Linked DNA regions of Homo sapiens: regions 2, 3, 4, 5, 6 and 7 are each linked to region 1. Evidence: fine-mapped expression QTL. A gene starts in region 1. Each other region holds a variant in brackets. All regions are shown on one strand. Distances are from middle to middle.

Region 1 (4,655 bases):
CTCACTGTAGCAGGTGCTGGGGACTCAGTCGGGGTCTTGGAGAGACAGTTATAGCAAGAATGTTTCATAAATGGTATCTGATATAGCCAAGATTAGTGAGGAATAAAAACACGTTGCTTAGAAATAATTATCCATAGATCTGAAGTCAACAAAAGTCCCTTTTCTAATGTAAAAATGCATACTTTTCTCAGAGGGAGGGGGAACAACTTAAACCAGAAAACACCTTCATATTAATCATCCTTCTCACATACTTCAAATTTGTACTTGATGTGTTTCCCCTCCTGGACATCAGAGAGAACACCTGGGTATTCAGGCAGAAGTTTATATTTCTCCAAGTCAATTTCTGAAAAAAACGTGTCACTTTCAAAGTCCTGCATGATCCTTGTCACAAATAGTTTAAGATGGCCTAGGTGATTCATGGCTTCCTTATAAACAGAACTGCCACCAACTATCCAAATCATGTCTACTTTATTTGCTAATTCTGGTCGTTCAGTAAGTTTTAAGGCATCATCCAAACTTCTGGCAAGAAAATGAGCTCCTTGTGGAGGTTCCTTGAGTTCTCTGCTGAGAACTAAATTAATTCTATCCTTTAAAGGTCGATTCTTCTCAGGAATGGAGAACCAGGTCTTCCTACCCATAATCACCAGATTCTGTTTACCCTCTACTGAAGAAGTTGTGGTCATTCTCTGGAAATACCTGAATTCATTCCTGAGCGGCGGCCTGGGCAGGTCCCCGTTCTTGCCGATGCCCATGTTTTGGGACACAGCGACGATGCAGTTTAGCAAAAGAAACATGACAGCAGCGGTTAACACCTCCGAACTTGCTGGCTACGCCAGGAAGCCAGGCCAAGAATGCCGCGAAATTCCCTTCTTCAAATTTTTTTACGTGCCTACATTGCAAATACAATACCACTGTATTAATTAATTGCAACATTCTGGAATGAACATAGAAAAATAAATTATATAAAATATATTTATAAAGTATAAATTTATAAAATATTTATAAAATATAAATTTATAAAATTATAAAAAATACAGAGGCTGAAAGGTTAGACCGACTTTTCCACAAACATTAAACAGACGGCATCCAAGAGATGGCATCATTTCATTCCTGATTATCATAGTCTTTTGTACCAAATCTAAATTCTAATAAGATGCATTTTTTAGGTGACTTGGAAACTTGTTTAAATAAATAAATATATTAAGCTTCAAATCAGATTAGAAGGAAAGACATGTTTTTACATGAATATAAGACTTGTACCTATAGCATGTACGTATATTGATATGAGCATCAAGGAACAACTCAAAATGATGATTATTAACTATCAGGGACCATATCAAACCGGTTTTTTCTAATTGCTGATTGCTGCTACAAATGATAGTTACTGAAGCATGACACCAAAAGAGCAAATAAACTTCTATTCGTGTCAAAATAGGTGTAATAAACATCTTCCTTGGAGAACCATTAAACATTGCTCCCTTGTAAAGGTGAATTGGGGAGGCTAGAGTGGAGGGTCCTTTTGGTCTTCACGCATTTGGTATCAACGCGACAAAAATCACAATGATCACAATAGTGAAAATAATAGCAGCTAACATTTGGGCATTTACTGTTTCCTAATCACTGTTGTAACCGCTTTACATGCCTACTTCAGTTTAACACTCTCCATTAAAAGGAGAGATTATCCCCATGGGCCAGGTCTGGGGAAAAGCATGACTTAATTTCTTTTTCATTATATTCCACCCTTTTATCCTTGGGTACTGAATGTCTAGGTTAACAGGGGTCACTAGATTTGGTAGATTAAGTCAGTAACTAGCTTCGCTTTGAGAATATTTTAAATCAGTCATCATACAACATAACCCCAAAACTCATTCCTTTATTGAGCCCCATGCATATACACACTGTTCAGCACAATATGCGACTTTTTATTTATTTTTGAGACAAAGCCTCGCTCTGTCGCCCACGCTGCAGTGCAGTGGCGCGATCACGGGTCACTGCAACCTCAAACTTCTGCCCAAGCGATCCTCCCACCTCAGCATCCGCAGAAGCAGGGGCCGCACAGGCGCGCAGATGTGTGACTTTCTAAGGTCCGGCCGCCCAAAGCTACGCCGACCAATCCAAGTAGCGAAAGTCGCTTTGGCCCTGGCCCGTTACCTCCGCGTCCTGGGAAGTATCAGCCTTTACCAGCTACCGGAAGTAACTGCGCACGAAATCTCCCGCGGGAGCTAAGCCTCTTCGACAAGAATTCTATAGCGCGAGCAAATCAGTATCTCGCGAGAAATTGAAGAGGAAACGTGAGAATGAAAGTGGATGCCCGCGAATCCCGGAAGTCAGACTGTTTTTTTCAGTTCCCTGGAGGCTTTTTGATACTGATTCGCGTACACCTGTTGTTTGAAAGCTCTCAGCGGGACAATGCTGACCCAGGTGAGACCTGGGGCCCGGCTGGGTACCTCTATCTGAATGAGACGCTTCTGGACGCGGCCGAGGTGGCGAGGGAGGGTGCTGGGATGGGGGAACATCACCTTTGTTCGTCCCCTCGCGAGATCAGCGTTTCTTTGGCTTTACTGTCAAGCCCTGAAATAATGCTGAGTGCTGTAATGCTGAGTCCCTTCCGTCCAGCTCGCAGACTTCTAGTACCCACTCCCTCCAGCTCTTGGAGGGCTGAGATTTGTTTTCTGTGTCACAGCGGTATCCCGGGAGCTTAGAACAGTGTCTGTTACATAGTAGGCATTGAATACACGTTTCTTGGATGAATAAATGAAACAATTGCAAGGAAGTTCACGATGAAATTGGAGTGACTTTTCTCCCTAAATTAACTTTTCACTTTAAAATAACGTTGCAAAGATAGTACAGAGTTCTCAAATACCTTTCACCAATTTTTCTTGATGTCAGCATCCCCGGTGACTTTTTAGTTTTGTTTAGATACAAGTTCTTGCTCTGTCACCCAATCTGGAATGCAGCTGCTCCATCATAGCTCACTGTAACCTTGAACTCCTGGGTTCAAGCGATCCTCCAGCCTCAGCCTCCCTAGTAGCTAGGACTACAGGAGCAGGCCACTACGCCTGGCTAATTTTTTTTTTTTTTTTACTTTTTGTAGAGACACGTCCTTGATATGTTTTCCAGTCTGGTCTTGAACTGGGAAATGATCCTCTCGCCTCGTCCCTGCAAAGCATGAGCCAGCTGGAGTACAGTGGCGCGATCTCGGCTCACTGCAACCTCCACCTCCTGAGTTCAAGCGATTCTCCCACCTCAGCCCCCTGAGTAGGTGGGGTTACAGGCGCCCACCACTACTCTCGGCTAATTTTTGTATTTTTAGTAGAGACGGGTTTCCCGTGTTGGCCAACCTGGTCTTGAACTCCAGACCTCATGTGATCCTCCCGCCTCTGCCTCCCACAGTGCTGGGATTACAGGTGTGAGCCACCTGCCTAGCCCCTACAGTGACTTTTTAAAATTAATTTTGTTCCTTTTGACAGTTTCTTCAGCCCCAGTAGATTCTGTTTTAACCTTTGCTTCACATTTGGAAAATAATTATTTGGAAAAACCTTGCTTTTTCATAATTAGATAATGTACAGTTTTGGTACATGTAAGGTATTGCTTCCATTTCAAGAACTAGTAATTATCCAAAAAAAGTGTTCTTGTCTTAAAAAAAGACCTTGCTAATGTTGACGTTCAGTAAATTTGTAATATCACTGTGTGTCAGCAACTTTTTCTTATCGTCATAGCTGAAAGCAAAATCAGAGGGGAAGCTTGCAAAACAGATTTGCAAAGTTGTGTTGGATCATTTTGAAAAACAGTATTCCAAAGAACTCGGAGATGCCTGGAATACAGTAAGGTTAGTATAATTCATCTCGATGCTTTATGATGGAACAAAGTACAATATGTAGTCCTCCTTTTTGTGGGAGGGATGCTGTGAGGTTAAAAGGCAAAGGAATCTAAATCTGGTTGCCTTTTCCTACTGAAGCTATAGAAAGGAACAACTAAGAAGAAATAGAATGAATCATAGCATGTTGGAAAGGGGAAATAAAACTTTGTCGGGATGGTAAGCACAAATTGTTACGCCTTTGCTTTGAGCAATTACTTTGATCCTTGAAATAGGAATGCCCACTAGTTTGACAAAATTAATTATACTGTAAAAGAAAAAAACATAAAATTTGGAATATTTGACTGATTTCTGAAATTTAGAAGATAATACAACAAATCTTTAAAGCCAGCACTGCTTTATCTCAGCCAAAGGTACACTTTATTTGGTAATCATATTTCTTTCCTATGTCGATGGCTGGGTATATTTTGAACACGTGCATATACACACAAAATTATTTAAATATAAAAATAAGGAATGTTTAATGCATGGAAGTGGGAGAAATGTGATTTGTCTGTTTGGTAAGATGATGTTAATGTATGGATTACTGTATGGGTTCTTGACATTGAGTGCCTGATACACTATATAACCCTCTCTGGAATACAGAGCAAGACAGTCTGCATGTCCAGTTTACATGCCGTCTAGTTAGTGTTAATGGGAGAAGTGAGGAGATGGGTGTGGTTACAACTATATAAACTAATTTGTAAATACTGTGATCCAAGTATCTAACAAAGCCTGAGGGTGCCAGCAAAGGCCTGAAGGGAAGCTGGGTCTTGGTGACTTAGAGGAGTTACTTTGA
Region 2 (4,655 bases), 63 kb before region 1:
GGAGAAATGCATAACATGTATTTGTTTCTGGAAACTGATGATTGCAGTAAGATATCATGCTTACTAAATAGTGGAAGGGCATTTATTAATTAACAGGTTGCAAAACTCACTGTTGGAAAAAAACATTTTCTCACCTCAAATGCTACTCTGTAATGTTAAGTAAATTATCTGTTATTGTCTATGATTTTTTCTAAAGCCTATGTCTATGCTATCTTCTACGTTATATCTTCACAGGACACTCACTATCATTATTTAAACTAGTGGTCAGCAAACTTTTTCTGTAAAGAGCTGAGTAGTAAATATTTTAGACCTTGCAGTCATCCAGTCTCCTTCTGAACTACAAAATTTTTATACTGTAGTGTGAAAGCAGCCATAGACCATCTGCATACATGCTGGGCACGGTGGCTCACACCTGTAATAATCCCAGCACTTTGGGAGGCCGAGGTGGGCAGATCACCTGAGGACAGGAGTTCGAGACCAGGCTGGCCAACATGGCGAAACCCCATCTCTACTAAAAATACCAAAATTAGCTAGGTGTGGTGGCACACACCTGTAATCCTAGCTACTCAGGAGGCTGAGGCAGGAAAATTGCTTGAACCCCGGAGATGGAGGTTGAGTGAGCTGGGATTGCGCCACTGCACTCCAGTCTGGGCAACAGTGAGACTCCGTCTCAAAAAAAAAGAAGACAATCCGTATACAAATGAGCATGGCCAAGCTCCACTGAAAATTTATTTCCGGCACTGAAATTTGAATTTAATATAATTTTCATGTGTTAGGAAATATTTTTCTTTTAATTTTTTTTAGTCATTTAAAATGTAAAACACATTCTTAGCTTGTGGGCCATACAAAAACAAGTGGCAAACCAGATTTGACCTGGAGGCCATGACACCTTCTTCTAACCTTCTTTTATCCATTCCTCTAAAGCCTGACATTCATGGGAGCAGGCACCTTAGAATGTGCTAATCAGATTACCTAATTTGTTATGTATACTGGGTGTACTTAGAACATCCTCTTTCCTTTCTTTCTCTTATGTATTCCACCTCCATATATTCATAAGTTCCTTTTTCTGAGTCTAGAAAATGCTTAATGTCAAAGCTGCCTTCAACTTCGAGCCCCACTCCCCATTCTCTTTTTGTCCTTCATCCCATATTTACTCTTCAGTTTCTTACTTTGAAATTTTTTTAGGACTATAATTTCTTAGAACTACTTGAAACTTCCCAGATGTAAGCCTTCTCTTTCCTTTATATTTTTGTGTTGTTCTCACTTACCTAACTAGAGAGAATATCTACTGATGTTTAAAGATGTATTTTTGTCGTATAGTCTCCTCTTTTATAAAGTCCTTTTTAATTCCCAGCTGCCCCAATTACTACCTTACTTAGTAGAATTGATCATGTCCACTTTTTTGGCCTGCTCTTCCTGATACCTACTTGGTCACTACTTAATTACATTTTGTTTGTGTATCTTTTTTCTTCAGGCTGTAAATTCTCTAAAGGCATTTTGCTTATTTTGGTGTCACAATTGTTTAGGCCATGCGCCTAGGTCTTCTTAAAACACCTCTCTCATGGCTCCTACTTTTCTACTTATTTCTGATTCTTTTCTGACTTCTCAGCCTTCTTTTTTTTTTTTTTATTTCCGTGTGAAATTGAGAAAAAGTTATCTGCTAGTTTCTTTTCAGATGTGTCTACCTCTCCTCTGACTGTGTTGCCATTGGCTAAATCCAAACCCTCAGTTTCTTTTATCTATGATGTCACAGTAGCTTTTTTCTAATTCATATT[C/CTATT]TATTTATTTATTTATTTATTTATTTATAATTTTTTATAGAGGTGAGTCTCACTATGTTGCCCAGGATGGTCTTGAACTCCTGGCCTCAAGTGATCCTCCTGCCTTGGCCTCCCGAAGTGTTGGGATAGTAGGCATGAGCCACTGAGCCTGGTCATATTTTTTTGGTTTTTTAGAGACAGGGTATCACTTTGTCATCTAGGCTGGAGTTCGGTGGCGTGATCATAGCTCACTGTAATCTCAAACTCCTGGGCTCAAGCTATCCTCCTGCCTCAGCCTCGAGAGTAGCTAGACTAGAGGTGTGCTCCACAATGCCTAGCTAATTTTTTTATTCACAATAGCTTTTTTTCCCTTTTTTATTTTTAATTTTGTGAGTACATAGTAGGTGTATATATTACGAGGTACATGAGATTTTTGTATAGGCATGCAAGGCATAATAATTTCGTCATGAAAAATTGGGTATCTATTCCCTGAACATCTATTCTTTGCGTTACTCTTTCAGTTGTTTTTAAATGTTCGATTAAATTATTATTGACTATAGTCTGCCTGTTGTGCTTTCAAATACTAGGTTTTATTCATTCTTTCTAAATTTTTTTCACAATAGCTTCTTAATATAAAAGTAACACCCCTTCCTGGAACTTTACTTCTTTAAATCAAACTTCTCTTCTTCATGGTTGTCAGTAATTGCATTAGTTGGACACAGGTTCAATTGTTCTCACAGAGACCTAAGATAACAGTGGTTCAACAAGATAGATGTTTCTTTCTTTCTCATAACAGCCTAAGCAAAAGTAGTCTAGGACTGGTTTGTCAGCTCCATCGTGTTAGTCCTCAATTCTTTGTTCTATTTGCTTTGCCATCCCCAGTGTTCTCCCTCACCTACATGGTTGAAGGTAGTTCACTACAAAATGTGCATTTCAGCTAGAAGGAAGAGGTAAAGGGTAAGGGGAGGCCATCCTCCTTTTCTTTAGGAGCTGAACCAAAAGCTGCTGCATCATTTTAGTTCACATCATGACTAGAAGCAGTGGTGTTCTGGACCTGCTTTTCATATTGGCTCATATCAACTAGTGAGAGCCGATTATGCATATCTCTTCCCAACTCTATGTTTAGGTACCTCACATTGTTAGTTTGAAATTGGCCATGGTCAAAGTATTTATACTGTGGAAATTGGCAGATACCATACATGTATCAGGGTTCTTCTCCTCCAAATATTTAACAACACATCACTGGCTAGCCTCCCCTCATGGCCACCCCTTGCTGCCGTAGTAGTTGGGGATTATGGTCTGTTGTAAGCAGTCATGAGCCTAGGTAAAAAAAAATCTAGGATTCTCTTGACTATCAGATAGTGTTTCCTAATAGGGAACTATTGTTATTTTTGGTGCGAAAATTCTTTGCGTGGACTGGTCCCTAGCATTGTTGGGTATTAACATGTCTTCATTATATTGTAGTTATTTGTGATTTGTGAAGAGGAAAAAAAAAACAAAAAAATTATAGTTACTCATATATATATTTATGTTTCATATGTAGTTATTTGTGTATGTGTGTGTGTGTGTGTGTATATGTATATATATATATTTCCCCAATAGACTAAGAGCTCTATGGGATCAGAAGATGGATTTTATTAATCTTTGTATTTCTAGAACCATGCATAGTACTTAGCTTATAAGAAATGCTCAAAAATTTATTGATTGTATATTTGCATTTTATCTTGGACTTTCTAGAGATGATGTCTTACCACATATACTCTACTGAAATTCTCAATTGGAGACCATGTATCTTTGTATTCCTGGTTCTTGTATGATTTATCATCTATAATGGGCCCTAAATACATGTACGAGGATAGATGGATAAATACATGAAAGGAAAAAAGAAAGGGTGGATGTATGGGACAGGAGCTTCAGTTATCTCAGTGGTTTGGTGGTGTAGTATTGAGCCCTATATACTTTGTGCTGAATGCTAAGGATACAAAGACATAGTCCCATGTGTTGGGAAGGTATAGGCTATTGTGAAGATCAGTAGAGGACAGAATATTATGATAGAGGTAAAGGTGATAGTAGAAGTAGGAGGAATCATCAAAAAAGGATTTATGGGGAAAGTTGTACCTGAACATTTAGTCTTAAGTTGTGAAACACAAATGCTGAATAGGAACCAGAGGAAAGAATAGAAGGTGTTCCATATATCAAAAGAAACAGGCTTTGGAAGTCCTGAAGACCTCTGTTTGAGGCCTGTCTCTGCCTGCTATATAACCTTGAAAAAAAATCCTTAATCTGAATTGGTTTACTGGGCATATTGCCATCATTTTATCTGTACTTAAATTGCTCCCTCTGCCTAAAATATAGTTCTCCCTTCTCTGTTACAATTATGTAGCTTTTATGTGTTCACTCACAATGAAGTCTTCATTTCAAGATTTTATTTCTTCTCTGAAAGCCTTTCTAGACCATAACTTGCCCCTCCCTTTTTCACCTTCCTTCCCTTGAATTCCTACACACTATCGTCTCTAGCTTATTTTTTTTAAAGAACATACAAATTCTGTGTTATTCCTATTAATATTCCACTTCTCTATATTACATTGTACTTTGAGGACAGCAATCATATCTTACTCATCTTTGCACCCTTGATGCCTAACAAAGTCCTGGTACCAAGGAGGTGTTTGATACATGTTAGTTCCCTTATTCCTACTTCAGCATAGTTGATTTGTTTTCACTGATGATTGCCTGGGGTTCCTCTCTATTCATACTGAAAGACAGCTGCCTATTTTATCCACACAAACTACTTCTGGTTAAGCTTAGATCACATTTTTAAATGCCTAGTATAATCCTATTTCTGGAAAATCATTCTGCTTATATGTCTAACTTTACCTTTTTCTTTTTCTAGGTAATGAAAGT
Region 3 (4,655 bases), 310 kb after region 1:
TTTCCATGAACCCAAAAGGAACTCAAATCCACAATACAGCCAAACACATTCTTTCTTTTTCAGCCTTTGTCTTTTTTGTTGTAGTTTCTGCTAGATCTTCATTTTCAAATTCATTCTTTCAAAATCTTACACAAATATCAGGGTCCTATTAATCAAGCATCAGAGTCCCATTCATCAAGGATCAGGGTCCCATTCACAAAGCATTTAATTCAGGAAGCAATCCTTGATCTCCCCTTCCTGATGAAGTCACTCCTCTGAGCCCTGTTAGCACTCTCTACCCCTCTATATCACTTATATCCTGATTATTAATATGCATATTTGTAAGGTTATCTTATTAACGACCTTGTACTCTCCCGACACTGTGACTATCATCTTAAGAGTAAAGTTTCTTATTTATAATTTCATTCTCCACATTGCCTACTTTTGCATCTTACAATGCTATTTACTAGTTTTTCACATGTATGTGAGAACTAAATTGAATTTTTATTTTTGACAGATAATAAAAAAAGCATTTCATTTATAAAATGAAGCATATAGTTGAAATAAGTAGGAGTGAAAGAGGTATTTAGTTATGATCAAATATATTAAGAAAATTTGCTGTTCTAGTTTTCAATGTACCAGAGTTCTATTTTAGTTAAATTATTTTTCTCTTTTAACCCTTCTCTCCCTTATGTTCTTTCATTTTTACTATATATGTATTCATATAGACACAGAGTGACTATTTCTCTTCCCTGATATCAAAGAATTTTTTCTCTATTTGATTTTTCCCTAGGGTTAGGCAGAGTGATTTAGAATAAACCAAATTTGACTTGAATCCTTACACATTTCTACAAATGTCAAAGTTTTAAATTGCATAACTCTGTATAGAATTTATGAAATCTTGAGTTTCTCTTGGATTCTGCTTTGAGCAACAAAACATACCATGCTTAAAATTGAGTTCATCTGGAGAACACAAAGTAATGTCAAAAAATACTACTCAGCATATCACTTCCTCAGAAATATCTCAGTATACTCAACATACCTATCTATAAAACAGCAAACTTCTAAGCTGTGGAAGTGAATAAAATTGATATTAGTCAGTGACTTCCCTGTGGGAAGAAGGGTGGCAGTGTAAATGCAGAGTAAAGGCTGAATGAAGTCTATATATGTTTGGGGGTATTTTCAGCAGCGGTTCTTTCAAAAGTCATTTCATTTATGGCTTTTTTGGTGATTTTGCACAAAATAACCTAGATACATTTAATTTTTACATTTTCAGAAGAAACCTGCTCAGTTTGGAGCATGTTCACTTCTTTTGAAATGTTGATGTTGAAAGCTGCATATAGATCTTTTGAGAGGCCACATGCTTGAGATTCTATTTTTAAATTTTCATGACAGCTTTTACACTCTCCTGAGCATGCTGGATCTAAGTTTCTACTGAAGCATGTAATTACCAGCAATGACTTAGCATCTGCCATGTGGTGCCAAGTAATGGTAAATGGAAGCAATGTCAGAAAGAGAAGATTGGCAAGTTGGAAATACTGAGATAACTCAGAGACTCACCTACTCTGGCAAACACTCTCACCATTGCTGGCAGCACAAGAGAACTTTATTTGCAAGAAATGCTTATGTAATATTTAAAGTGCCCTACATCAGAGAAAATAAAAGGGTTACTTTTTTTTTGTTGTTGTTGTTTAGAATAAAGACATAATATCATTGACTGAATGCCCTACTCTTCCAAAACTATTTCTTACCTAACTTGTCATTTTATTTTACTACCTCCACTATTTGGTTTGCTCCTTTGGATGAGAATATTGTCTATAGAAGGTAACTCTCAAAACATAGCTATGAGATAAAGACCTAGGAATGGGGTTGAAGATGAAGCTGTAATTTAGCTTTAGGGTATACAGGAATCACCTATAGAGACTTTTAAAATTACAAATTCCTGGACTCAGCCTTCAGAGATTCAAATTCAGTAGGTTTGGAATTAAGCGGAGCAATCTTCATTTTTCTGAAGCACTGAGACCTTGGACCAGATGGGAAAGATATCACTCTAACTTGAAAAAAGCTACCTTTTAGCCTCTGCCTTAGTCCATTGGTGTTGTTATAAAGGAATACTTGAGACAGAGAAACTTATAAGAAAAGAGGTTTATTTGTCTCATGGTTCTGTAGGTTGTACAAGAAGCATAGCACCAGCATCTGCTTCCATTCTGGGATTTAGTGTGTTTCCACTCACAGCAAAAGGTGAAGGGGAGTTGGTGTGTGCAGAGATCACACGGCAAGAGAGGAAGCAAGAAAGAACTGGGGTTGGAGGAAACATCAGGCACTTTTTAACAGCCAGATCTCACAGGGACTGAGGAACTAATAGAGCTACAGAGAGAATTCACTTACTAATTACCATGAGAACAGCACCAAGCCATTCATGAGGGACCCACCTTCAAGACCCAAACACCTCCCCTTTGCACCACCTCCAACATTGGGAATCAAATTTCAACATGAGATTTGAGGGGTCAAACAAACCAAACTATAGCAGCCTCTGTCTATTTCCAGTATAAACTGTGGACAAGCAGAATTCTAGAGTCTCCCAGGAGCATGACAGAACTGCAAAATCACAGATTCACACCATCTATAGAATCAGAATTTGCATTTTGACAAGATCCACAGGTAATTCCTATACACATTAGAATGTGAGCAGCACCACTTCAGTAAACACATAGGATTTAGTTCCTGCTGTGTAGTTAATTAGATTAGCTGTTACATTGACTAGAGAAGGGAGAGTAGGAGGTAGAACAGTAAGTTTGGATGGAAAGGTGAGCATTAGTTTGGAAGATGGTGGTGGAAGGCTTGAGG[C/T]AGTTTGGTGGAAACAATATGGGAACAGAACTGGCAATTAAGCCTTGAGAGGCAGATTTCACAATGATTCCAGGGGCCCTTCAGCCCCGTGTTAAAAAGTGCTATCCTGTATTTCTTATCTTTAGTTTGAAAAAATTTTATTTAGGCCAGGTGTGGCTCACATCAATAATTCCAGCACTTTGGGAGGCCAAAGCAGGTGGATCACTTGAGCTCAGGAGTTCAAGACCAGCCTGGGTAACATAGCAAATCCCTGTTTCTATAAAAAATACAAAAAAAATTAGCTGGACATACTGCCATACACCTGTGGTCCCAGCTACTCAGGAGGCTGAGGCAGGAGAATCACTTGAGCCCGGAAGGTGGAGGTTGCAGTGAGCTGAGATCATGCCATTGCACAACCTTGGGCAACAGAAGAGAAACCCTGTCTCAAACAACAACAACAACAACAACAACAACAACAACAACAACAAACAAAAATATTCTATTTAAAGTCCTAGTATTTGAAGTACAGTAGAGAAAATATAGTTAATAATAATTTATTGCATATTTCAAAATAGCTAGAAAAGGATAATTGGAATATTTCGAACATAAAAAAGGTAAATGTTTGAGGTGATAGATATCTTAATTACCCTGATTTGACCATTACATATTGTACATAGACGTTTATTAAATATTTCATGTATCTCCCAAATATTGAAACTATTATATATCAATAAACTTAAAGCACATAACAATATTACATATATGTAATTCATTTATACTTTGGATTCCGCATGAAGCAGTTTTGACAAATTGCTGTTATGGTCTATTCATTGTGCTTTAGTATTTGACTGCTAGAACAGATAGACAGTTTTAAACCCTCCCTGTTTTGAAACTGTGTACAGATTGACACAGTCATAGTTACTGAATAATTCAAGGGGAAAATCTCTGATATTCCTCAGGTAGCCACGATCTTTAAGCCTGGCTACAGATGCATTTTCCTTGAACCAAAAGATCTCAATTAAGATTAAAGTTTCAAGCGAAACATAGGAGCTGCATTCTCTGAATGAGTACTAAATGTGGTGAAATGAGTTCAGCTATTTTGAACATCTACCATGCAGAATAAATTTTATAAATAAATTAAATCACATAACCTAATGAATATATTTCTTGTCACTTAGCAAGATAGCTGTTACCAGCTAAATACTAAAAGCTGTGTATTTAATTGATAAAAGCACATTTATTACATTAGAAATACGTAAAGTTACCCTGCAATGTGACTACCACACAGAGTTCTGTCTCATTAATTCCAAAGAGACATTGTGCAAGTTTTATGGTAATTTTGACAAATTAAGTTTCTTAGTGTTTTTAATTTGGATTTCATAATCTTTCTTGCCAAATAATTATTTAACTTCACAAATGCTAGCTTTGTAATAATTAATTGGTATTTAATTATCATATAACCAATGATATTATAATCTCTATATGAAGTTTCATTTCATTTAAAATAAAACCTCATTTTAATGTAAATTTTTTTCAGATTAGTATCAGTGACAGTTTTTCACATGAGATAGTAAACTTGGTTTACTCTCTGAGCAAGCAAGTAATCGTCTTTCAAGATCAGCAAGGAATTTAGGTATTGTTCTTTCTGAAAATTGCCCTAAAGTTGTACTGTCATTTTAAAACATAAGACCATGTCACATACTTTGGTCCCTTGAGACTCTAACTATAATAATTTTTTGGTTTAGGACATTACAATTAATGGAAAAAGATAAAAATAATGGAAAACTAAGAGGTGTAATTCTGGGTTCAGTGCACTAATCTAGACAGTATTCTTGTCCCTTAATAAAACA
Region 4 (4,655 bases), 61 kb after region 1:
AAGTATGAGAAGACCCTCAGTGGTAGGAACCCCCAAAATATCTCTTTAATCAATAAATGAATACATGAGATGTATAGAAATCCTGGATACCATAAAATTTTAGTTATCTGGAACCTCAGGGAATACCTTTTCTAGAGAGGTTATCCCTTAACAGTCAAAATTTTTAAAAATACATATAACTGGCCAGGCGTGGTGGCTCATGCCTGTAGTCCCAGCACTTTGGGAGGCCAAGGCGGGCGGATCACCTGAGGTCAGGAGTTTGAGACCAGCCTGGCCAACATGGTGAAACCCCGTCTCTACTAAAAGTACAAAAATTAGCCAGGCGTGGTGGCAGGTGCCTGTAATCCCAGCTACTCAGGAGGCTGAGGCAGGAGAATTGCTTGAACTGGAGAGGTGGAGGTTGCAGTGAGCCAGGATTGCACCACTGCACTCCAGTCTTGGCAACAAGAGCAAGACTCATCCCCCCACCTAAAAAAAAAAAAAAAAAAAACAATTTAAGTGACCTCCATGGCAAAAGCTCTGATATTTATTCTTTTGTCAAATCTCCCCTTTAATTTGTATTACAGAAATAAATCAGATGGGTAAAAAATTAAACTACAAATGAGCTCCTAGTGAAAAGGATTGCTCCCCTGCAACTCTTCCTCTCTTCCTCCAGTCTTAGTCCTCAGAGGCAATTGCTTCTAATGATTTTGGTTCCTAATTCATTCTTCAGGTCACCCCCAAATCTCTAAATAATACGTTTATTCATTTTCTAAAATTGTCAAAAAATTAGACATTAACTACTGCCCTATCCCAAGGATTTATGTCACTTACACCACCCTTCCCTCATCACACTACCCTGCACCCTGCAATCTCACACTGTACTCAGTTTCTCTCTGTCGGCTCTGAAACTTAGTACCATACACTTAGACCTACATTTCTTATTCTATTAGTGGGGGAAAGTTCTCTTAAATACACATCACACCTTTTTTGTCTTTTTTTCTTCATTTATCTTTATTCTTTTAAAAAAATAATTAGAGGCAAATGTCTTTTGCCTTTTATTTTTATAAAATAAGAACACTTACACGCCCACCCTGCCTTCCATTTCTCTCTCCCTTCTACTTCCCAGTATCTTACAGCTGTACTTTCATGTTGTCAAGGTTGATCATATTCTTTCTGAGACCTTAAAATCTGTTCTGTAACAATAGTAAGTTTGGTCTTTGGAGTAATTCTGAACATTGAAGACCCATAAGTGGTGTATATTGTTTAATTCTATAAATATTGTCCACTGCATAATGGAATAATATGTTAGAATTAAAATTCCTTGTCTCTTGGTTCAATCTCATGAGCAGAATACCACTGAAACATTTTTTCTAGAATCAGATAGATGAGACAAGTTGATCTCTCCCTTTCCCTCCCAATTATGTATACCAAATCTTCAAGTTTTTCTCAGTTTTCAGTCATTTCATCTCTTTTACTTCTCTCCCTTCTCCCTTCCTTCTGGAGAGCTCCCTCTTTTTCCAGACTGCAGTAGTTGCCTTCCAGGCCTCCCACGCAGCTCTCACTCTGAGGCTTCACTCCTTTCACTGCTCTTCTATGTTGCATGCACTCTTTTCTGAATTACATTTTTCCTCTTTCTTGCTTTATTTCCTCATTTTACTAGAATTAAAATTTCGGAGTCATGAGATATCTGCAAGTTTCTGGATTCTTGCTACATATTTATTTTATGAGTTGGCTGCAAATAGAATTCACTTTAAATTGCTTTTTCCTAGGATTTGGAATGTATTTCTCCACTGATACCAGTCTGATTCCTGGGCTCGTAATAGGTGACCTGTTTTTCTCTTTGGAGGCATTAAACACCTCTTTGTTCTTGAAGTTCAAAAATTTAACAATGATGGATCTAAGTGTGGGTGTTTTTTATTCATTATAAGGGTGAAGTTTTGACAGTTTTCATCAAGACCCTCTCCACCCCCTCCTCTTAACTCTGTCACCTCGTCTCAGATTACCACCCCTGGCTCACCTTGCTCCAGCCACACTGACCTCCGCTTTCCTTGAACATGCCTCAAGGTCTTGTCACTGGCTATTCCTTTGGTATGGAATGCTCTTCTCTCAGATATCTGCTTGGCTCACTCCCTTACCTCCTCAGAACTTTGTTCAAATGTCACTTTCTGAAATGGCAAACTGTTCTAACTGTCCCATTTAAAATTATAATCCCTCTCATCCAAGCACTCCTAATCCTTTTATCCTGCTTTTATTTTCTTCATAGTTATCTATCACTAAATTGCATACTAAATAAAAAAATGTGCAAACCTGTACATATATGTATGTATGTATATGTGTATATGTATATATGTTTATCTTTGTATATGTGTATGTTTATGTATGTGTGTATATATTTATATTAGTTTGCTAGAGTTGCCATAACAAAATAACAAGACTGTGTGGCTTAAACAATAGAAGTTTATTTTCTATTTTATTATTTTATTTCTTTTTTTTTTTTTTTTTTTTTTGAGATGGAGTCTCACTCTTTCACCCAGGCTGGAGTGAAGTGGTGTGATCTTGGCTCACTGTAACCTCTGCCTCCTGGGTTCAAGTGATTCTCCTACCTCATCGTCCCAAGTAGCTGGGATTACAGGCATCCACCACCGCACCTGGCTGGTTTCCCCATGTGGTCCATGCTGGTCTCGAACTCCTGACCTCAGGTGATCCATCTGCCTCGGTCTCCCAAAGTGCTAGGATTACAGGC[G/A]TGAGCCACCGCACCTGCCTAGAAGTTTATTTAATCACAGTTTTGGATGCCAGAAGTTTGAGATGAAGGCATCAGCAAGATTTGTTTTGTCTGAGGTCCTTCTTCATGGCTGGTAGATAGCTGTCTTCTCCCTGCGTCTTCTTTATATGGTCCTCCCCTGTAATTCTGTGACCAAATGTCCTCTTCTTGAAGGATCCCAGTCATATTCCATTAGGGCCCACTTTAATGAACTACTTTTAACTTAATTACTTCTTTATGGACCCTGTCTGTAAATACAGTCACCTTCTAAGGCACTATGGGTTAGGACTTCAACAAAGGAATTTTGCAGGGACACAGTTTAATTCAAAACATATTTAATTTGTTATATTCTATGTCCCCCAGCTAGAATGTAAGCTTCATGAGGTGAAAGATTTTTTTGTTGTTGTTCTGTCTGTTGAGATATACTTACCACCTAGAACAATGCTCAGCATATAATAGAGGCTCAATAAATAATAATGAGTGTCTTATCTTTCTAGTACTCCTATTAATTGGATTTTGAACCTATGTAATTGATCCACCTTGTCTCATTTTCAGTCAGTCTGTTACTGTTGTACTTTTTGTGGAGAGATTTCTTCAACCTTAACTTCCAAATACTTCTACAGAATATTCTTTATTTTGGTAACCATATATTTAGTTTCTAAGAACTCTCTTCTTGATCCTTTTTCATGGCATTCTGTTATGGATATTGTATCTTTGCTGATCTGTCTGCATTTAATAGATCATATTTCTCTTTTGTTCCCTGAATTTTCTGTTTCTTCCTGTGTCATTATTGTTTATTTTGTTCTTTCTCTTACATATTGCTTAAGCATTTCTGATCTTTAATTATCTAGCAATCCTTGGTTATACATTTTTATTTAATAATGAGACAATAAAAGTACTAGAGGTGTATTTTAAGGACGAGACCTTTTATCTGGTGATACAACTTTCTGAAGAGCTGACTGTTACTCTGGAGGCTCTCTTCATGGTAGAATGCAGAGATCTTTGATTTGGGGTCTAAAACCCATAGTGGCTGCCTTAGAAGTCTTCACAAATAGTTTATTCAATTTTCTTAGATAAAAACCTTCCAACTTTTTACCTGGTTGCCCAAATTGCAATATTGGAAGTATGGAATCAATGACTTCTTATGTATGCTTTCATATGTATGCTTTGTTTTTATTTTTACTCCCATCGATTTAAAGACAAACTCATTATTCTGTTCTCTACCCCTATTTTCCTACTTTTTGAATAGCAATCAACCAGTCTAACTTACTCTATCTTTTCCATGTTGATTGGTCTGATTATCATTTTCCAAGTCTTCAAGGATAAGTTAGAAAGAAATAGGTGTAAGATCAGAGATTGGGCACAGTGGCTCACGCCTGTAATCCCAACACTTTGGGAGGCTAAAGCAGGCGATCACTTGAGATCAGGAGTTCAAGACCAGCCTGACCAACTTGGTGAAACCCCGTCTCTACTAAAAATACAAAAATTAGCTGGGCATGGTGGAGGCCGCCTGTAATCCCAGCTACTTGGGAGGCTGAGGCAGGAGAATTACTTGAACCTGGGAGGCAGTCATCGCAGTGAGCCGAGATGGCATCACTGCACTCCAGCCTGGGTGACAAAGTTAGACTCTGTCTCAAAAAAAAAAAAAAGACTAGAAAACATCCAAAGTAATTGCAGTCTAAGTCAGAGTAAGGTTAGTTTTAAGTACGTAATCTTTGCTGTCAGACCCCCTGGTTTCTTTTTAATATACTTAACTAATCTTTTGCATTTTTCTGATTGCACACAGGTCTGCAATTAAGGCCTTACGTCCTGGAGGGATACTTGTATACTCTACATGCACGCTTTCCAAGGCAGAAAATCAAGATGTGATCAGTGAAATTTTAAACTCCCACGGTAACATCATGCCTATGGA
Region 5 (4,655 bases), 75 kb before region 1:
TTACCTGGGTCTTGAAGAAATTCATGCAACAAATTTTGCATACAAATTTTGGCAACAAAATTCTTTGTTTATATGAAAATATACATGTTATATAACTTCTTATATATTATGCATACATAACTAACAAAAATGTTTTTACTGTTATTTAACCAAAAAGAAAGATATAATAAGTACCATATGCCTGCCAGGTTTTATAAATATTAATCTTTAGTCATCATATTTCAATTTTATTTTAATAAGTAGGTAACAAATCCTTGAAACTTCCTGCCCCCTATTCATCTCCCACCATTCTTCCACAGAGTTAACCTTTAATTGGAACTGATTTCTTGTCCATCTGTGTTTTTTCAGCATCACAAATACAACCTATCAAAGCTTTACTTCAAATTTATTAGTAAATTGTTTGCTGTGGCCAAGTCTAAAATAAGATACAGTACACAATGTTTCTAGTGGTCTGTTTTGTCCTCTTTGCTATGAACTTTTTCACTGAGGGAATACTTAGCTCCCTAATACCATCATTCTTGGCCTAAATAAATATAACTGTAAATCTAGACCATTTATAGAAATTGCTGAGTTCTTAATTTTCCAATTAAGCTGTATGTACAGATTAGCAAGGATTATCTATTGTGCTGTATGCTGAACTGGAATATTTTACATCTCTTTTTATCCCCCTAGTTCTTCTTGATTATGCATAGTAAGAATTTTAGAATTTTAATATAGAAAAGGACCTAGAGACATTCTTATTTTACCCCCTTATATTTTAGAGATGAAAAAATGGACACTAAGAATTTGACTTGATCAGGGCTTAAAAGCAGGCTATAAACCCAAGCTTGGCCTTCTCACTATTTATTCATACTCAGTAAATTTAGATAATGATTTTGCTGTAATATGGGGTTCTAGATCTGAATTGAAATGTCAGAAAATAGTGTACTGCAATAAAATCACACTGTTTTTTCGATACATTTTTTTCTTTCTATCAATTTGTCGTATAGTGATTTTTTAAAATTCTCACATATGTATCATAAAACCTTGTTCTAAAGTCTTTTTTTGTATATGTATTTGTTACTTTTAGAATTTATGTTTATGTTAAAATTTAGAATTTGCTTCATGTAGTTTTAAATACTGTAGATAATAGAGTTCCGATGTGTCAAACTTTGATTTTAGTGTTTTTAGCGAAATGTTTTCTTTGACTTGCATAATATTTTTGAAGTTAGAAACAGCTTTTATGGGCCAGGCATGATGGCTCGCACCTGTAATCCCTGCACTTTGGGTGGCCGTGGTGGATGGATCAGTTGAGGTCAGGAGTTCGAGATGAGCCTGGCCAACATAGTGAAACCCTGTCTCTACTAAAAATACAAAAAATTAGCCAGGCATGGTGGCAGACTCCTGTAATCCCAGCTACTTGGGAGGCTGAGGCAGGAGAATTGCTTGCACCCAGGAGGCAGAGGTTGCAGTGAGTGGAGATCTCGCCACTGCACACTCCAGCCTGGGTGACAGAATGAGACTCCGTCTCTAAAAAAAAAGGAATAGCTTTTATCTAATTATCATATTGAAAGTATTGTCTTCCTTAGTTAAAAGATGAGGAAGTTTAGACTTGTAGGTGTTCAAATGATTGTGATAATGTCATTCAGGAAAGATTCAGAATTTAAATGTTTTCTAAGTTCAATCCTCCCTAATGCCATGATGCTTATATTTCTGATTTTTTTTTTTTTTAAATAGAGACAGGATCTCACCATATTGCCCAGGTTGGTCTCAAACTCCTGGGCTCAAACAGTCCTCCTGTCTTGGCCTCCCAAAGTACTGGGATTACAGGCATAAGCCATTGTGCCTGACCAGTATTTCTGATATATTAATTTGTATATCCGTTATATAAAAAGGAATTCTGAGATAAGATATTCTCATATTCTCACTTAGGAGATCTATTATATACATTGTGTTGACTTGAACAATATTAATTATTAGCTTCTGGAGTATGGAAGTCTTCACTTGTTTCGGCAGATAGCTAAAGTGATGTAAAACAGACCTTTGGATCCCTTAATCTCTACCTTTGATTTTTTTTTGTTTTTACTAAGAATTATTTCAGTTTTTTCTTTTGTAATGGAGATTTTATTTGTCGTGTTGAGAATAAGTATACAGACATTTCAAATTGTACACAATTCTTAACATACATACCAAAAATCTAGAAAA[CCT/C]CTATTGTAATTCCTTTTTCTGAAACGGTCTCTCTCTATTGCCTAGGCTGGAGTGCAGAGGAGTGATCACGGCTCACTGCAGCCTTGACTGCCCGGGCTCAACCGATCCTCCCACTTCAGCCTCCCAAGTAACTGGGAGGTGCATGCCACGATGCCTGGCTAATTTTTTTTTTTAATTTGTAGAGACAAGGTCTCACCATGTTGACCAGGCATGTCTCAATCTCCTGGGCTCAAGTAATTCTCCCACCTTGGCCACCCAAAGTGCTGTGATTATAGGTGTGAACCACTGCACCCGGCCTCTTTTTTAAATAGTTATTATAGTGACATTCCAACTTAACATTTGGAGGCAAATTTTTCTTAAGAGGATTATCAAGAGCCAGTATCTACAAGTGTTTGATAAGCTGTACACGTTCTACCAATTCACAGTTTAATAGCATGTACACTATATACCCAAATTTTCAATCTTTCACAGCACATTAACACAGTTATTAGGAAATCAGGACTTCTGTGACCAAAGATGTTATAGTGTACACAGTTCTGACAGGGAGAGCCATGATCAAGGAGTGGTTTTCTTTAGGAAACAATTCTGTGAAAAAAAAAAAAAAACATGGCAATAGAAGTAATTTAAAATGTTCAAGACATTAAATGCAGGATTCTGACTCTGTATTGCCATTTAGTATATTTTGTATTACAGTATATAAAAACTAAGCCCCCATCTGTGGAATGTTAAGCTGACATCCAAGACAGTCAAAACTTCCTGTAATTCAATATCCCATACTATTCTCTGGTTTCACCAAAAAATAAACAACCAGAGAATTATTTCACCTCAGAAAAAACTTAACAATGGAATGAGGTGGGAGTTCCTGCTACTTAAAATGTTTCTAGAGCTACTAAAAGACTTGCACTTACAAAGCAGTTGATAAAAATACCCTGGATTGTACAAGAAGGGAGACAGGGACTACTGATAAGACATGGTATATGATATTAATCAGACTTGGCTTCTTTCTCTCCTGCTTCATCAAAGGTTGGAGTCTCCTCGGTTTTAGTTTCTTCGTTTTCTGCAGGTAAATCTTATTTAGTTTCTTGGTTAGCCACTTTGGCCTGTTTTCCCTATGCTCCCCTTTTCCCATTTGTTTGCATTTTTTTTTTTTTTTTAATCTGAAGATTTAGCCTTTCCTGATGCCTCTTTGGCTTCATTTCCACTTTTGCAGGAGCAGGTTTAGCTGACAAGTGCGCAGATCTCCTCTTGGGCTCTTGCTTCGCCACCCCTTCGGCTGAACTGACCTTCCTCTTGGGCATCTTGGCGGCAGGAGGGGCACTTGCTGGGCACCTGTGGGCCACGGAGCTGAGAGCCTTCGCGAAGCTGGGCTGCCTGGCTACTGGCACTCCTCCCGCTGCCCGAGCTGCTGAGACCCCTATTTCAGTTTTGAAAGTCTTTCTGTTAATTAGTACCTTGAAACCATGAGCATGTAAGCTTTTTCAGAAAACTTCAGCCAATTTGATATATATGGATATAATTACATTCTTTAATATGAACTATTTTGATGTGAAGATTTATATAAATTAGCTTCATTATAGTACTTTCTCAATCTAAAGTTATGTATTTTAATTTTACTTAGTATTTACTCAGCAAATGGGGTTCAGAAAATGTTTGTTGTTTCTTTCAGTAAAGAAGCCTACTGTGTGCCCAACACATTTGATACAGGCACTACAGAGCTGATAAAGAGAAGTTCTGGTAGAGGAGCCTGTATAAAAAGTAGCCGGGGATGGTTGTGAAGGGCTGAAGGAGTACTCGGCATGGAAGGAATCCTCGGCATGGCAGGCTTCCTGGGAGTGGCAGAAGTGGGGGCTGCCAAATTGAGACTTGATTCTCTATAAGGATTTTAAGCAGAAAAATGCTATGGTTAATTTTTTTTTTTTTTTTTAAACAGCCTCATGCTGTCAACCCAGGCTAGACTGCAGTGGCATGATCCCAGCTCATTGAAACCTTATTTAATTTTCATTATATCCCTTTAGAGTAGCTATTGTTATTATCCTATTTCATTCATGAAATTCTGAAAAGTAATGTGCCATATAGCTTAGAAATGGCAAATCTGGCACTTGAACTCAGGTCTCTAACACCAAATTTGTGGCTACATTTCAGAGTACCCATAATACCTCTTATGTTACTTATTACTAGTATAACATACTGTAAATCTTATAATACTACAGAGTCCTTTGTATCTCAGCCTTTCTAGTAATCAAAGACCCAGGGATGACTATAATATTAGGAGTAAGCGGCTCACTTTCAACTTCTGGAAAGGTTACATCATTAATTATTTGATAATACAGTTTGAGTATCTCTTTTTTTTGTTTTGTTTTGTTTTGTTTTGTTTGAGACGAAGTCTCCCTCTGTCGCCCAGGCTGGAGTGCAATGGCACGATCTCAGCTCACGGCAACCTCCACCTCCTGGGTTCAAGTGATTCTCCT
Region 6 (4,655 bases), 140 kb after region 1:
GTGTCCTTCATTTCCAGAAGTTGTGATTGTTTTTTATTTATGCTATTATTTCTCTGGAGTTTTTTCCATCCATATCCTATAACATATTTTTGATTTCTTTAAGTTGACATTCACCTTTCTGTGGTGCCTCCTTGATTAGCTTAATAATTGACTTTCTGAATTCTTTTTCTGGCAATTAAGATATTTCTTCTTGGTTTGGATCCATTGCTGGTTAGCTAGTGTGATCTTTGGGGGATATTAAAGAAACTTGTTTTGTTATATTATCAGATTTGGGATTTTTTTTTTTTTTTTTTTTTTTTTAGTTTCTTCTCATTTGAGTAGACTATGTCAGAGGGAAGATTTAGGGCTCAAGGGCTGTTGTTCAGATTCTTTTGTCTCATGCGGTGCTCCCTTGATATGCTGTTCTCCCCGCTTCCCTTAAGGATGGGGCTTTCTGAGAGAAAAACTGCAGTGATTGTTATTTCTTTTCTTTGTCTAGCCACCCAGCTGAGCTACCAGCCTCTGGGCTGGTACTAGGGAATGTCTGCAAAGGGTCCTGTGATGTGTTTCGTCTTTAGGACTCTCAGCTGTGGGTATCAGCACTTGCTCCGGTAGAGGTAGCAGGGGAGTGAAGTGGACTCTGAGAAGGTCTTTGGTTGTGGTTTTGTTTAGTGCACTGGCCTAGTGTTGGTTGGCTTCCAGGCAGGAGGTGGCACTTTCAAGAGAGCATCAGTTACAGTGGTCTAGGGAGGATACAAGCTGGATACAAGCTGGCCGTAAGGGGACTTGTTGTGGCCTCTTTGGGGGATGGGAGGTGTGGTTCTCAGGCTGATGGAGTTACATTCCCAGGGGGGATTAGAGTTGCCTCTGCTGCATCATACAGGTTGCCAGGGTAGTTGGAGAAAATCAGCAGGGACAGGCCTCACCAATTCCCATGCAGTCAGCAAGGTCAGTCTCACTCCCACCATATCCCCCCAGTAGCACCAAGTTTATCTCCAGGCAGCTGGTGAGAAGGCTAAGATCTTGGCCCAGGCTACAAGCCTTCTTGCTAAAAAAACAAGCAGGACTTTCAGGTTTTGTTCCTGTCTGCCTGCTATGGCTTTTGTGTTCCTATCTGCAATCCCAGATCACCTCCTCCCCGAGATTTGGTCCAGGAAACTTTGCTTTGGTTGAAATTGTTACAAAGTTCAGCTGGAAGTTTCTTTCTCCCTGTGGTCTTTCCCTAATTCCACTAGGAGCCCTCCCCAAGGACCCTTGTGAGACAAAGTCAGAAATAGCTTCACTGGGGAACAAGAGTGCCCACAGGGCTCTTCCTGCTGCTTCCTCTACCCCTATATTTTTCCCAGCTCTCTAAATTCATCTCCACTCCCAGTAAGGTCAAATCCTCTCCCATAATTAGATCCTTCAGGTTTCCCAGTGAGGATGTGCGTTTGGGGGCAGATGTTCTATCTTTCACACTTTGAACACTCACAACTTTTCAGCTGTCTCATGGAGCCTGCAGCAGCAGGCCCTTCAATCCATTTTGAGTTCATTTTTGCATATGGTGTGAGATAAGGGTCTAATTTCAGTCTTCTACTTGTGAATATCCAGTTGTCCCAACACCATTTATTGAAGAAACCATCTTTTCCCTTTTGTGTTCTTGGCACCTTTGTCAAAATCAATTGACCAAAAATGCATGGATTTATTTGTGTGCTCTCTAGTCAGCTTCATTTCTCTATGGGTCAATTTTTATGCCAGTGCTATGCTATTTTGACTCCTAGAGCTTTGGCCATCAGATATTTGAAAAAACGCTCAAAATTGCCAATCATCAGAAACTGCAAATTAAAACCATAATGAGATATCTATCACCTTGCACCTGTGAAAATACCTATTATCAAAATGACAAAAGAAAGTGTTGCAGACAATATGGAGAAGAGGGAACCCTTGTACATTGTTAGTGGGAATATAAATTAGTGCAGCCATTATGGAAAACAGTAAGGAATCTCTTCAAAAAATTAACAATAGAACTGCCTTATGACCCAGCAATCCCACTATGTCCAAAGAATATGAAATCACTATGTTAAAGCGATACTTGCACTCCCATATTCATTGCAGCATTATTCACAATAGCCAAGATAAGGAATCAACCTAAAGGTCCATTAATAGATAAATTGATAAAGAAAATGTGATATGTAGACACAATAGAGCACTATTTACTTAAAAAGGAAGAAAATGTTATCATTTGCAACAACACAGATGAACCTGGAGGACATTATGTTAAGTGACATGCGTCAGATAGAGAGACAGATACCAAGGGATCTCATTCACATGTGGAGTGTAGAAAAAGTTGAACTCATGTAAATAGAGAATAAACTTATGGTTACCACAGGCTGGGGGAAGGAGGTTGGAGATATGTTGGTCAAATGATAACAAAATTTTAGTTAGATAGGAAGAATAAGTTCAATAGATCTATTGTACAACATGATAATCATAGTTAATAACAATGTATTCTGTTCTTGAAAATTGCTGAGAGTGGATTTTATGTGTTCTCACCACACAAAGAAAT[A/C]ACTAAATGTGGTAATGTGCATGTTAATTAGCTCGCTTGAGCCATTCCACAATGTATACCTATTTCAAAACAAAATGTTGTACAGAATAAATATATTCAACTTTTATTTATCAATTTAAAAAGTAAATAAATACATTTTGATTAAATTTAAAAATAAGTAAATAAATACATTTACCTGGAAATGGCGCTGTTCTTCCCTGGATTTCACTCTTTCAATCTTTTCCATGACTGGGTTACACCTTTTTTCTCTCCCTCTCTTCCATCTTATCCTCCTTCGTCCTCACTTTCTGCATATGACCTGTTTGCTACTCCACAGAACACTCAGAACACTCCAGAGATAACTTCCAGACTTCTCCCTTACCTGCTGACCAGGCTTTAGACCTGCATGCTTAATTTTATCACCTGTGAAGAATAACTACACACATTTCTATTCCAATGTCAGTCCCTCCCCTTGGGCACTAAATTTTATCCCTCTTGCTCACTCAAGGGCATTACTGCCATGATACTTACTTTCGTCTCTCACATCACCATGTATTTCCTCTTTACTGGTCTGTTCCCATTTATACACAAACCTTCTTCTTCCCCACCCCATCTTAAAAAAAAAAGAAAAAAAACCCTACTCTTTCTCTTCGCTCCATTTTTCTGCTCCAGTTTACTAGAAACTCCGTGCTGCCTCCAAGTTTTCTCCACTCTTCATCTTTAAAGCTCCCCAGTCAGGGTTTTGCCCCTACCTCTCCTCTTAAACTGTTCTTGTCCAGGTCCTCAGTGATGGTCATGTCGCTAAAAGCAATGGCCACTTCTCAGCCTCCTCCTTCTTGGTGCAGTAGGTTGTTCCTTTCTCATAGACTTTCATCATCTAGCTTCTGGAACATTGCTTTCTCCTGGTTTTCTTTCTACCTCAGTGGGCAATTTTCTGATTAAAAAATACAGTACAGAAGTCATTTACTGTGCCAAAATAGAGGGTCAATATGAAGTCTTTTTCTAGATTTGAAAAACAAAACAGACTGATCCAGAGAAGGTTATTTAGATTCTCTGTTAGTTGCTTCAGGCATAATGATAAGGTTTTGGACTACATTGTCTTGAAATTATCCTGCACTGTCCTGATTCTTGGAAAGCATTATATGGTTTAAAATATGTCAAGCAAAGAGGCAAAATACTGTGTTCCAGTGTACAATCCATTGTATTCACACTGGAGGCTTAGGTTAATCTCATAGCTTTTCTAAGCCTTAGTCAGCTCATCTGTTACATGGGGAATAATAAAATCTTGTTGGCCTATCTAAACAAAATGGCTATAAAAATAAAAACAAATGGAATTATATGAAATTACCTCAAGAATGCTGCAATACTATATGATAAGAAAGGGAAAGATTACCTCAAATCTTAGAATGAAAGAGGCAAATTCACAAAACAGCAGAATATTTTACTATACAGATTTTATGATATGATATTCATTACCTCTCTCAGTCATCACCATTATAGAAAATGGCAACTTTGTCTTTCCTGTGGCATTGGCCAAAACCTTGCGATGATCCATTCTATTCTCTTGCTCTCACAGTCAACTCAATAGGAAAATACTTCCATTTCTACCTCCAAAATCTCTCTGCAATCCAACTACTTCTCACCAATCTCACCACAATTTGCCACCATCTCTCTGATACGTACCACCAGCATCCTTCACAAGGACTGTTGCCACAGCACCCTAGTCTCTAGCTTATGCCTTATCCCGTGTAGTCTATTCTCTACAAATCAGCCAGAGTGGTCCTGTTAATTAACATTGGCGATTATGTTATTTTTTTGCTCAACACCTTTTAAAGGCTTTTGATTTCACTTAAACTAAAAGGGGAAATCCTCACAATGGCCTATAAGAGCACACTCCTCTCTTTTTTACAACTCTGACTCATCTATTACTGCTGTCTTCATCCTATATGTGACTGTAGACACACTGGTCTTTCAGTTCATTTCTTCTGCCAGAAATATACTTTTCTCAAATTTCCAAATGATTAACTCCCTCCATTTCTAAAAATTTTTGCTCAAGTGTCATTTTCTTAATGAGGCTTACCCTGGCCATTCTATTTAAAATTGCAATCTGTTCCATCACTGGGACACTTCTAATCCCCTCTCCTTGGTTTAT
Region 7 (4,655 bases), 31 kb after region 1:
AAGACCATGATAATGTTTTGTGGTGTCCAAAAATGTAAGTCAAAAGAAAACCCAGATATACAATAACAGTAGCATCTAAAGCAAGAGTGTTACGAGATTCTTGTATCTTTTAGGAAAGTTGGTGAAAATTGACTTAGCTTAGATTTTTCTTAACACGTGCATGTTAAAAGTCTTTTGGGTTACCACTAGAAAAGTCAAAATAGAATGTAAAACATTTAAACTAGAAAAAGAGGAAAGTTGAATGAAAGGTGAGTAAGACCTCTTTTCTCTGAGGCCCTTAGTATTTGATAGGCAGTGGTGAACAATGGCAGGGGTGACTTTGGGGGTTATCTTGTGGACCCAGCTTATGCATCACTACAGATATGTTTGGCTTCATCTTTACTCCCATCCCTCACCTCGTGGCTGGAGCCACTTGAATTGTTTCCAGAGACTGGAGAAACCCTAGCAAAGGCTCATGCCATTCATGCAGTTATCTTCTGCTAATGCTACCACTGCCACAAATTGAAGAGCCTCCCAATGAGTGCCAGGTGACAAGCAGAGATCACCTCACCTGTATGCTTGCAATACCTGGCCTTGGGTACTGTCTGGTTTTTTTTAGCAGTTGCCTGAAGGGGTCAGGTACACAACCCCAAAGTTGGTAGAAGTTACCAGCTCTTGTTGTGGACTTTAACCAATGAGAGAAAGAGACAAAAAGCAGCCAGCAGATTGTTCTTCCTCCTTCCTCCACTAACCTCCAGTTCCTGAGAAGGCTCTGTAATTTCAAACTGTAGAGTTGCCCTGAGAGACTGACCAAAGCTCTAGGCAGCTTGATTACAAATCCTCCTGTATCTATCATGCTACTTCCATGATTTACTTCCTTTTTTCTCTCACTTTTGCTTCCTTAGAATTGCACCCTGTCCATACCATGAACTTCTGTCTTACATTGTTTTCTAGTGATCTCAAGCTAAGACGAGGGCTTTTAGACACCTATTTAAGTTCCATTAGTGAGTCCTCCAAAAGACACCCAAAATAAACATGAAAACTAGCTGTACAGATGTGCTTTAAGATGATTTTCTACTCCTCTTCTCAACAAAATTGATGCCATCTCCTGAGTGTCTTCCCTATAGAAATATGGAGCCCTGGGCCTGGCACGGTGGCTCATGTCTGTAATCCCAGCACGATGGGAGACCGAGGTAGGTAGGTCACCTGAGGTCAGGAGTTCCAGACCAGCCTGGCCAACATGGCGAAACCCCGTCTCTACTAAAAATACAAAAATTTAAAAATACAAAAATTAGCCAGACGTGGTGACGCACACCTGTAATCCCACCTACTTGGGAGGCTGAGGCAGGAGAATCGCTTGAACCTGGGAGTCAGAGGTTGCAGTGAGCCGAGATCATGCCACTGAACTTCAGCCTGGGCAACAGAGCGAGACTGCATCTCAAAAAAAAAAAAAAAAAAAAAAAAAAGAAAAGAAATATGGAGCCCTCGTAGTAGAGAAGGTAAGCCATACACAGAAACACCTCTCATGTGAGATAAATAAGAGAAGTACTGAGTATGTTTGGGAAATGGAGTAGTCCATCAAGTTTGGTAGAGCACAGAGTATACTGGGGAAATAGTGGGAGATTAAAATGGAAACATTGTCCTGAGGTCTGGCTATTATGGACCTTGATTTAAGGACTCTGCATTTGAACTTTACTCAGTGGATGATGGGAAGTCACTAAAAGTTTTTTTTTTTACTTTTTAACAGTGGAATGACAATCAGAAAAAAAAAAATATGTAACTGGGCATGTCCCTGTGGAGACACTGAAAGCCTGTGGAGTTGTTAAAATACATATACACATACATATACATATATGTATGTGTATATGTATGTATGTATGTATTTGAGCAAAGGCTTTACAATGTTTTTTCCCTTCTACGTTAAACTGTAATGTTCAGTTAGTTCTCTAGTATTGTTGCCTTGGTAACCTGACAGAGATTGTCACTATGATCTAGGCAAGATTGCTTATGATAAAGATGACCCTGATTGGTAAACTGCATGTGGGCTGGGAGAAAGAATAAATAACCCCTAGAGACCTGATAGAGGTGCCATGCTTTGGGTCTTCTGAGTGCAGTGATTCTTATAACTGGGCATGTCCCTGTGGAGACACTGAAAGCCTGTGGAGTTTTTAAAAGGAATAATGGTTCCTGTGGGACAGGAAGCTTTTAAGCCAGGACAGTTCCTGCGTCTGCCGCAATGTGAGTTTCATCTTCTTGCACCTGAATTACCACCTGTGTTTACTCTTAAGCGTTAGTTCTTTAGAGTGAGAGCCATGTCTGAGGTATTGGTTGTATAACATATCTTTAGGAATTTATAATTTTTTATAGGTTTTACCTCTAATAAAATTAAACTTGGTGGAGCAAATGCTGAGAGCTTCTGAGAGACTGTGTAGGCATGACTGTTGTAAATGTTTTATGTAGTAGGTATGT[G/T]CATCTATATATACATACACATATACCTTATTTCTGTTTTTAAAGCATAAGAAAATAATAATGTTTACCTCTGAGCCCTATTTCTGCATAATTATGATGAGTTAATTTCTTTCTGAAATTTATTTGCTGAAAAGTAGAAATTTAACAGTTCCATTGCCTTCATTTGAAACTTTTTAATCCTTTTTATTTAGGTTATCTTCATTGTAATGAATATGATAGTCTGAGATTGAGGTGGCTAAGGCAGACGTTGGAATCTTTCATCCCACAGCCTTTGATAAATGTAATTAAAGTGTCTGAATTGGATGGCAGAAAAATGGGAGATGCCCAGCCTGAAATGTTTGACAAGGTACTTTTATTACATTGTGACAAACTGATGGACGCCCAGTAATACCACTATTATGTTGCTTTGTGGTTGTTATTTTCCATCTGTTCTCAGACATAGCCTGATACAGTTTCTCAGTACCCTGGAAAATTTTGATAAAGTGAACATGGAAGCAGTTTTCATTTGATGGTCAGCATGGTTCAAAGGAAGCAGTAACATTGGGATTGAGGATTATAGAATGTTTTATATTGGCAGGTAACTCAAAGATACTCAGGAAAAGATCGGATATTATTTGGGTCAGTACTGTATTGCTTTAATTCAGTAACATTTCATATCAGAGTATGACAGTTGAAGAAAAAGAGGTTATTTCAGTAAGCTGAAGTTGAAATATTAGTTCTTAGAAATAAGTGCTGAGAATTCAGAAATATTATTAATGTCTGATTACAATGAGTAACTTTTGTAAAAATTTTTGCTGTGGTTGTCAAGGATATCAAATAGCATTAGTAGACCTAGTAAACTTTAATTCTCCCATCCTAAGCCCCCAAAAACAAACACTGAAAGTACATGGTAAGTTTTTCTGAAAAGTGTTAGTGAGGAAATGTCATAAGGAAAAACCTACTGTGGTGTATTTTCAGTTAAAAAAGAAATGTTTTTACTTATTTCCTATTTGTTTACCATGTTTTAGAGAACTTCTCTATCTACTTCGTGCCTGAGAATAGATTGTCAGTGCATATTTGCATCACTTGTCTTTTTTTTCTCTAGGTGTTAGTGGATGCTCCGTGTTCAAATGATCGAAGCTGGTTGTTTTCTTCTGACTCTCAGAAGGCATCCTGTAGGATAAGTCAAAGGAGGAATTTGCCTCTTCTACAGATAGAGCTGTTAAGGTAAGGACTGTTAATACAAAAGTGTATTTTGGTGTCTGATGTAATTTACACAGGCATAATAGAACATGTCAGGCCCCCAGTGGAGGGCTTGCTGTGTAGGTGTCAATGATTATTCCTCCAAAGGCTACACTCAAAAAATTCCCAACTTCTTCCCCTTTATCGCTCATACTGTAATGCTCACCGCCCCTCCCTCCACCCCCAGTGATGTGTAGTATTGCTGTGCATTGTCTTTTAAAGGGCATAGGCAATTTTACTGTAGTTCAAAGTTGTTTGCTCACTGGGACCCAACCCTGGGGGTTCATAGCCCTGTTTCTTTTACCAGAATCTGAGCAGCCCCTTAGGAATAGCTTTGAATCAGGATGCATGTTTTGTTATTGTTCTGGATGAATCAGCCCCTAGCAAGTTGTAGCTGGTTGTTAGCGCTTATCTCCCCTCTGAGAATTTTCCAGAAGGACCTGGCCACTGAACATTTGGTTTCATTAAGAACACAGCCATTTTGAAACATTATTGTTCGGGTTCCAACAGCGATTTTGACATATGCCCTACTCCCATGTAATTCTCTTGTTTAATGCTAAACCAAATTTTTTTGTTTGTTTGTTTGTTTGTTTTTGAGACAGAGTCTCACTCTGTCGCCCAGGCTGGAGTGCAGTGGTGCAATCTCGGCTCACTGCAACGTCCACCTCCCAAGTTCAAGCTATTCTCCTGCCTCAGCCTCCTGAGTAGTTAGGATTACAGGTGTGCGCCACCAAGCCTAGCTAATTTTTTTTTTTTTTTTTTTGTATTTTTAGTAGAGATAGGATTTCACTGTGTTGGTCAGGCTGGTCTTGAACTCCTGACCTCGTAATCTGCCCACCTTGGCCTCACAAAGTGCTGGGATTACAGGCGTGAGCCACCACGCCTGGCCACTAAAGCAAAATTATCTATAATATTTAAAATACAATTAAATGGTGCCTTAATCACTCATTACCTCTTGCACGTAGAAAGACAGTGAATGACAGTAT

Direction of the effects. Positions count from the first base shown, and alleles are read on the strand shown. Sizes are in standard deviations (SD) of each study's normalised expression. Not every link is listed here.
With allele C in place of CTATT in region 2, the expression in naive CD8 T cells of the gene that starts at base 2,199 in region 1 is lower (large effect, 1.9 SD a copy in Schmiedel 2018).

Evidence for each region. PIP is the estimated chance that this variant, and not a neighbour inherited with it, causes the effect. A credible set is the group of variants that fine-mapping cannot tell apart.
Region 2: its variant is the best candidate, but not a certain one, in a credible set for the expression of DHFR2 in naive CD8 T cells (Schmiedel 2018, PIP 0.68).
Region 3: its variant is the best candidate, but not a certain one, in a credible set for the expression of DHFR2 in anterior cingulate cortex (GTEx, PIP 0.78).
Region 4: its variant is the best candidate, but not a certain one, in a credible set for the expression of DHFR2 in tibial nerve (GTEx, PIP 0.88).
Region 5: its variant is the best candidate, but not a certain one, in a credible set for the expression of DHFR2 in whole blood (INTERVAL, PIP 0.66).
Region 6: its variant is the best candidate, but not a certain one, in a credible set for the expression of DHFR2 in whole blood (INTERVAL, PIP 0.69).
Region 7: its variant is the best candidate, but not a certain one, in a credible set for the expression of DHFR2 in nasal epithelium (TOPMed, PIP 0.63).

The regions. Positions count from the first base shown.
Region 1 is chr3:94,060,718-94,065,372 of GRCh38, forward strand. DHFR2 (dihydrofolate reductase 2) reads right to left here and starts at 2,199. Exons shown (of 2, transcript NM_176815.5): 1 at 2,029-2,199; 2 at 1-889. The coding sequence starts at 794. The coding sequence ends at 231. NSUN3 (NOP2/Sun RNA methyltransferase 3) reads left to right here and starts at 2,344. Exons shown (of 6, transcript NM_022072.5): 1 at 2,344-2,421; 2 at 3,720-3,829. The coding sequence starts at 2,410. RefSeq lists an enhancer at 2,238-2,477.
Region 2 is chr3:93,997,312-94,001,966 of GRCh38, forward strand. The region is part of intron 2 of ARL13B (ARF like GTPase 13B); the gene reads left to right. Among named protein-coding and RNA genes, the nearest start is that of ARL13B, 19 kb to the left of the region's middle. The variant C/CTATT (reference allele first, on the strand shown) is at 1,776.
Region 3 is chr3:94,372,249-94,376,903 of GRCh38, forward strand. No RefSeq gene overlaps it. Among named protein-coding and RNA genes, the nearest start is that of NSUN3, 310 kb to the left of the region's middle. The variant C/T (reference allele first, on the strand shown) is at 2,827.
Region 4 is chr3:94,121,682-94,126,336 of GRCh38, forward strand. It overlaps NSUN3 (NOP2/Sun RNA methyltransferase 3), which reads left to right. Exons shown (of 6, transcript NM_022072.5): 6 at 4,530-4,655. Among named protein-coding and RNA genes, the nearest start is that of NSUN3, 61 kb to the left of the region's middle. The variant G/A (reference allele first, on the strand shown) is at 2,726.
Region 5 is chr3:93,985,462-93,990,116 of GRCh38, forward strand. The region is part of intron 1 of ARL13B (ARF like GTPase 13B); the gene reads left to right. It also overlaps the pseudogene HMGN1P7. Among named protein-coding and RNA genes, the nearest start is that of ARL13B, 7.6 kb to the left of the region's middle. The variant CCT/C (reference allele first, on the strand shown) is at 2,185.
Region 6 is chr3:94,202,073-94,206,727 of GRCh38, forward strand. No RefSeq gene overlaps it. Among named protein-coding and RNA genes, the nearest start is that of NSUN3, 140 kb to the left of the region's middle. The variant A/C (reference allele first, on the strand shown) is at 2,525.
Region 7 is chr3:94,091,501-94,096,155 of GRCh38, forward strand. It overlaps NSUN3 (NOP2/Sun RNA methyltransferase 3), which reads left to right. Exons shown (of 6, transcript NM_022072.5): 4 at 2,640-2,794; 5 at 3,533-3,654. Among named protein-coding and RNA genes, the nearest start is that of NSUN3, 31 kb to the left of the region's middle. The variant G/T (reference allele first, on the strand shown) is at 2,449.